2 linked regions of the Homo sapiens genome follow. The protein of the gene in region 1 purifies or fractionates together with the protein of each later gene. This does not show direct contact. Each region holds a gene or a part of one and is shown on either strand. Other genes may lie near its edges.

Region 1 (3,820 bases):
AGGTGAGAGTTACGGGGCTTGGTGGGTTAGGGTGGTAGTGGGAAATATGGAGGGAAGGATATATATAAAACACATCTGTATAAAACATACAGAAAAGTACAAAGAATAATGAAACCAGCACTCTTGTTCCCACTACTCAGAATTGACATAATAGCTGTCAATGTTCTGTTGCATTTTTTAGGTCCGTTTTTTAAAAAATAAAGCATTACTGGTAAGTCTCTCCATCTCAGTATATTGTGGTGTTCTTCCAGTTGCTCAGGCCAAAATTTTGGTGCCATCTTTCACTTCTTTTGCCTTAAGCCTTCTCATGGTTCTCCCATTGTCATCCTTGTTCACACTGCAGCCAGGGCGATTCCCTTTGACACGCAGGTCATGTCACTCCTCTCTGAAAGTTTGCTCTTTCCTCGGTTTATTGAGAATCCTATTCTCAGACCACCTTACCATGGCCATGGCCCACACGCTGTAGTTTAGGGGCTGCAAGTTCTTCTTCTTCTTTTTTTTTTTTTTTTTGAAATGGAGTCTTGCTCTGTCACCTGGGCTGGAGTGCAGTGGAGCGATCTCGGCTCACTGCAACATCCGCTTCCTGGGCTCAAGTGATTCTCCTGCCTCAGCCTCCTGAGTAGCTGGGACTACAGGCGCGTGCCACCATGCCCGGCTAATTTTTTGTAATTTTTTTTTTTTAATAGATACGGGTTTCACCATATTGGCCAGGCTGGTCTTGAACTCCTGACCTCGTGATCTGCCTGCCTTGGCCTCCCAAAGTGCTGGGATTACAGGCATGAGCCACCACGCCCAGCCAAGCTTTTTTTTCATAAAAGGGCCGGATAGTAAACCTCATAGGCTTTGTGGGCCACATATGATCTCTGTCACAAGTCTTTTTTTTTTTCATAACCTTTTCAATATGTAAAAAACATTCTGACCTTGGGGACTGCCCTTGACTACTACTCTAGTCCCCTGCTATCTCTTTGACATTGTCTGTTGCTCCTCTCCCGTTTCCTCCCTGACTCTGCTCTGTCTCATTGGTCTCCTTGCCAAGCACACTCCTGCCTCAGTGCCTGTGCACTTGCTGCCCCTGTAGTGGTTTCCTCTTAGATACCTGCATGTGGTGTATCCTTGCTTCATTCAAGTTTGTGCTCAAATGTTTCCTTATCACAGAAGTCTTCCTTGACCAACCTATCTAAAATCACATTCATTGTTACTGTCAGCTCTATTTTTCTCCCTTAGCACATGTCACGCCTTACCTATTACATATTTGTTTCTTTTCTCTTACAATGTGAGTTCTGTGAAAGTAAGAATATTTTCTGCTTTTATCCAGTTATATCTCCAAGATCTAGAACAGTGCTTGGTACATAGTAGCCTTTCAGTAAATATTTGTTAATAAATACTGAATAAAGTTGAAGTCACTTGTGTCTAGCAATCCCTGGTCCTTTTGCTCTTTGCTTTCAATGTTTCTTAGAGGCAGCCATTATGAATTCGATATGGGGCCCTCTGGTGTATGGTGTTTTTGTTAGTTTTTTGAGATGGAGTCTCACTCTGTCACCCAGGCTGGAGTGCAGTGGTGTGATCGCAGCTCACTGCAATCTCCATCTCCTGGGTGCAAGCGATTCTTCTGCCTCAGCCTTCCGAGTAGCTGGGATTACAGGCAGGCGCCACCACACCCAGCTAATTTTTGTAATTTTACTAGAGACAGTGTCTCACCTTGTTGGCTAGGCTGCTCTCGAACTCCTGACCGCAAATGATCCACCCGCTTTGGCCTCCCAAAGTGCTTGGATTGCAGGCATGAGCCACCGTGCCCAGCCTGGTATATATTTCATACTTCAACAGATGTGCGTGTGCCTCTGTAAGCAATGTACAGGTCTCCTTTTTGTTTTTTTTTCTTTTGAGACGGAGTTTTGCCCTTGTTGCCCAGGCTGGAGTGCAATGGAGCCATCTTGGCTCACTGCAACCTCCGCTTCCTGGATTCAAGCGATTCTTCTGCCTCACCCTCCTGAGTAGCTGGGATTACAGGTGCCCGCCATCATGCCCAGCTAATTTTTGCATTTTTAGTAGCGATGGGGTTTCACCATGTTGGCCAGGCTGGTCTTGAACTTCTGACCTCAGATGATCTGCCGGCCTCAGCCTCCCAAAGTGCTGGGATTACAGGTGTGAGCAACCGCACCCGGCCCTAATTGGTTTTAAAAAGATTATAAAGCCGAGATCACACTGTATGTAATCTTCTGCAGCTTGCATTAGAGATTATCCTTGTGATTATATATAGACCTTGTTTAATTTAACTGCGATCACGTTTTGTCTATCTTGTCCTGTGTTGAACTTTTTTTTTTTTTTTCCTGAAGTTAGTGTCCTCACTCTGTTTCCCAGGCTGGAGTGCAGTGGTGTGATCTTGGCTCATTGAAACCTCTACCTCCCAGGTTCAAGCGATTCTTCTGCCTTAACCACTTGAGTGGCTGGGATTACAGGCTTGCAACACCATGCCCTGGTAAATTTTTAGTATTTTTAGTAGAGACAGGTTTTTGCTACGTTGGCCAGGCTGGTCTTGAACTCCTGACCTCAAGTGATCCGCCTGCCTCGGCCTTCCAAATTCTGGGATTACAGGTGTGAGCCACCGGGCCTAGCCCTGTGTTCAACTTTTTAATGTCAATGTTACACTGGTGGTGTTACAAACGGTACTGAGGTGAGCTCCCTAGTCTTCTCTCCCCTCACAAATGTGAGTTTATCTAGAGTATATTTCTAGAATTGCAGTTGTGAGTTATAGGCATGCTTCAGTTTTAATAGATAACAGATTGCTTTCTCATTAGGGGCTTGTGAGTAGTGTGATTTCCCAGCATTCTAATCAGCACACAGTGTTTGCCTTACTTTTAAATATTTACCTATCTCATGGGTAAGAAATGATGTATTGCTTTAATTTGTGTTGCTTTATAGTGACAAAATATATATTTTAAAAGCTGTTATATTAGGTTCAGGGGTACATGTGAAGGTTTCTCGTAAGTGAGCTCTTGTTATGGGATGGAATGTATTTTGGAGAATCAGATGGACATACTGTCAGCTTGGAGAAGGTTAGAGGTATAGAAACTGTAGGAATCAAATATGACTTTAGGTTTCTGGCTTGGTAGTGGTGTTGCTTAATGAACAGGGGAAAAAACTATTGTGAGGGTTCATTTTTTTTTTTGGTCAAAAATGCCTTTACTTTGCCTCCACTTAAACACAATTTTTTTATTAGAGTCGCGCTCTGTTGCCCAGGCTGGAGAGCAGTGACGCCATCATAGCTCACTGCAGCCTTGAACTCCTGGGCTCAAGCAGTCCTCCTGCCTCAGCCTCCCGAGTAGCTAGGACTACAGGCATGTGCCACTGTGCTAAGCTTGCCTCTGTTTTTGAAGGATAGTTTCATCAGGATTATAGTTGGAGGCTTTCAAGTTAATTTATTGCAGTTTTTAATTTTTTGTAAAGATGGGAGGTCTCACTATGTTGCTCAGGCTGGTGTTGAACTACTGGCCTCAAGTGATCCAAAGTGTTGGGATTACAGGCATCAGCCATTGAGCCTGGCCTTCCTACAGTGTTTTGAAGGGGTAGTTTTACTGCTTTCTGGCTTCCACTGATTCTGTGGAGAAGTCAGCTGCATCAGTCTTATTGTCACTCTTTTCCAGTTAGTGTGTTTTTTCTTCCCTTTAGGCTGCTTTTAAGATGTTCTCTTTGGGTTTGGTTTTCAGCTGTTATGTGGTGTGTCCAGATGTGGTTTTCCTCAAGTGTATCCTGCTTGGGATTAGTTGTTCTTTTTCTTCTCTTTGGCAGTGCTGTGACAAAGCTTGATCTTAAATTAGATTTA
Region 2 (3,212 bases), on another chromosome or scaffold:
GTCATACCTTTCATACAGCACTTAGACAAGGACAGCCAGGGCCCCCCCACCTGGGTCCTGTGCTTTTAGATCAATATTTCTCAATACTTAATGTGCACACAAAGCCCTGGGGATTGTGTTAAGCCACAGATTCTGGCTCAGTAGATCCTAGCCCTGAGATTCTGCATTTATAAGAAGCTCCCTGGTGATGCCCATGCTGCTGGTCCAGGGACCACACTTTGAGTGGCAAGGCCTTTCAGGGTTTTATGAGAATTTTTTTTTTTTTTTTTAGCTGGAGTCTCGCCGTTGTCCAGGGTGGAGTATAGTGGTGCGATCTCTATTCACTGCAACCTCTGCCCCCCAGGTTCAAGCAATTCTTGTGCCTCAGCCTCCCAAGTAGCTGGGATTACAGGCACCTGCCAACATGCCCTGCTAATTTTTCTAGTTTTAGTAGAGATGGGGTTTCACCATATCAGCCAGGCTGGTCTCCAACTCCTGGCCTCAAGTGATCCGCCCACCTCGGCCTCCCAAATGCTGGGATTACAGTTGTGAGCCATGGTGCCTGGCCATTTTATGAGGATTAAATAAGCAGATGTACATAAACATGGTTAGAAGAGTGCCTCACACATGATGGGTGCTCAGTTGATGTCATTCCTCTCTGCCTTCCTCCTTGAAAGTTTTAGAAAAAGACTCAGTGGAGGAGAGAGTTCACGCGAAATTATTAGGACCACAGTGATCAGGTTACAGAATGGTGAAGCTGGAGATGACTCTAGGGTGCCTAGAGGGGGGTTCTTAAATTCCACCTTTCCCAGGCATCACCTAAAAATATACTGACATAGAAAATCTTGGAATGGGCCCCTGGAATTGTTAGTTTAACAAAAAAAGTTCCAGTAGCCTTTGATGCCTTTTTTTTTTTTTTTTTAAATTACTGATCTGGTCCAAACCCTCATTTTATTTTTCCTCAAAAACGTTTTTTAAAACTTTTATTCCACTTTCAAGAGTACATGTGCATGTTGGTTGTATAGATAAATTACTGTGTCGTAGGAGTTTGGTGTATATATGATGTCATCACCCAGGTAATAAGCATAGTACCCAGTAGGTAGTTTTTCAATCCCCTCCCTCCTCCTGCCTCCCACCCTGAAGCAGGCCCTGGTGCCTGTTTTTCCCTTCTTTGTGTCCATGTGTATGTACTCAATGCCAAACCCTCATTTGAGAGATGAGCCCCAGAGGGGTGAAGTGACAGCCCTAAGCCATGCAGAAGTTTCAATCAATGATTCGTTCATCATTCAATATATGTTTTCTGAACACCTTCTGTGTTCAAGGCACCATGCTGGCTTCTAGGGGGACTCAGTGGTGAAAAGCCTGACCCCAGTACCTGTTCTTACAGAACTCATAGCCTAGTGGGAGCCTAGATATCAGACACGGATCAGGTAGACAGTATGGACAATCATACATGGTCATAAATGCTTTCCATCCTGTACAAAGTAAAGGCTGCAGCGTCAGAGGTCGCAGGGGGACCTGACTTAGATTGGGGAACCAGAGAAGGCTCCTCTTAGGAAGTGACCTTTCAGATGAGACCTGAAGGGTTTGCAGAAAAGAACCAGGTGGAGAGTGGGCAAAGCCAGGGAAAGAGCATGGCACAGTTGAGGCACCGAGGGGGTGCCAGTTTGACTGACGGAGGCAAGGGAGCGCCCAGGTGGGGCTGCAGGGCCACCATGCAGGCCTTTTCTCACTGGTGTTCCCCGGTTCTGTCCATAGCAAACGGGCCCCATCAGTGCCACCCTGGTGATGACACGCCCCATCAAAGGGCCCCGGGAAATCCAGCTGGACTTGGAAATGATCACTGTCAACACTGTCATCAACTTCAGAGGCAGCTCCGTGATCCGACTGCGGATATATGTGTCGCAGTACCCATTCTGAGCCTCGGGCTGGAGCCTCCGACGCTGCCTCTCATTGGCACCAAGGGACAGGAGAAGAGAGGAAATAACAGAGAGAATGAGAGCGACACAGACGTTAGGCATTTCCTGCTGAACGTTTCCCCGAAGAGTCAGCCCCGACTTCCTGACTCTCACCTGTACTATTGCAGACCTGTCACCCTGCAGGACTTGCCACCCCCAGTTCCTATGACACAGTTATCAAAAAGTATTATCATTGCTCCCCTGATAGAAGATTGTTGGTGAATTTTCAAGGCCTTCAGTTTATTTCCACTATTTTCAAAGAAAATAGATTAGGTTTGCGGGGGTCTGAGTCTATGTTCAAAGACTGTGAACAGCTTGCTGTCACTTCTTCACCTCTTCCACTCCTTCTCTCACTGTGTTACTGCTTTGCAAAGACCCGGGAGCTGGCGGGGAACCCTGGGAGTAGCTAGTTTGCTTTTTGCGTACACAGAGAAGGCTATGTAAACAAACCACAGCAGGATCGAAGGGTTTTTAGAGAATGTGTTTCAAAACCATGCCTGGTATTTTCAACCATAAAAGAAGTTTCAGTTGTCCTTAAATTTGTATAACGGTTTAATTCTGTCTTGTTCATTTTGAGTATTTTTAAAAAATATGTCGTAGAATTCCTTCGAAAGGCCTTCAGACACATGCTATGTTCTGTCTTCCCAAACCCAGTCTCCTCTCCATTTTAGCCCAGTGTTTTCTTTGAGGACCCCTTAATCTTGCTTTCTTTAGAATTTTTACCCAATTGGATTGGAATGCAGAGGTCTCCAAACTGATTAAATATTTGAAGAGAGCTTGTGTTTGGTTCATTTTGACATCATAGACGAGTCAGCCTTTGGGGTTCTAGTTCTGTTTAAACCTGTTTATTGTGCGCTGGCTTAGAAAGCTCTCCAGAGAGCTAGGGCATTATCTGTGACTCTGGCAAATTGATGGGAGGGGGGCGGTGGGGCAGAGAAATAGGGGTCGTGGGGAAGTTAGGGGGAGGCATCATCCCTGAGTCCTGTTTCATCTGATTAGAAAACAACCAACAATCCTTCTCTTACGTAGATTATTTCCGGTGCTCCTGCAGAACAGGAATGTATTCAAGTTACTTTAAACCAGTGGCCTTCAACCCTGGCTGCATAGACGGATAACCAGTAGAACTTTGGAGGAAAGATTGATTCCCCGGGACATGCCCCCAGACACTCTGATGTCATTGGGCTTAGGTAGGGCCCGGCCATCAGGATTTTTGAAAACTTGACTATGTAGCCAGAGTTGAGAATGTATTGTTATAAACCCTAGAAAGAGAGGTGG

The links.
Region 2: the proteins of CYTH3 (region 1) and FBLN5 purify together in Homo sapiens (co-immunoprecipitation; one large-scale study listed by IntAct). This does not show direct contact.

Annotation. Positions count from the first base shown.
Region 1 is NC_000007.14:6,262,309-6,266,128, reverse strand, and holds part of CYTH3 (cytohesin-3), read left to right. Parts: intron 1-3,820. UniProt on the Homo sapiens protein: Promotes guanine-nucleotide exchange on ARF1 and ARF6. Promotes the activation of ARF factors through replacement of GDP with GTP. Plays a role in the epithelial polarization.
Region 2 is NC_000014.9:91,868,911-91,872,122, reverse strand, and holds the end of FBLN5 (fibulin-5 isoform 1 precursor), read left to right. Parts: intron 1-1,737; coding exon 1,738-1,899; 3' UTR 1,900-2,712; downstream 2,713-3,212. UniProt on the Homo sapiens protein: Essential for elastic fiber formation, is involved in the assembly of continuous elastin (ELN) polymer and promotes the interaction of microfibrils and ELN. Stabilizes and organizes elastic fibers in the skin, lung and vasculature.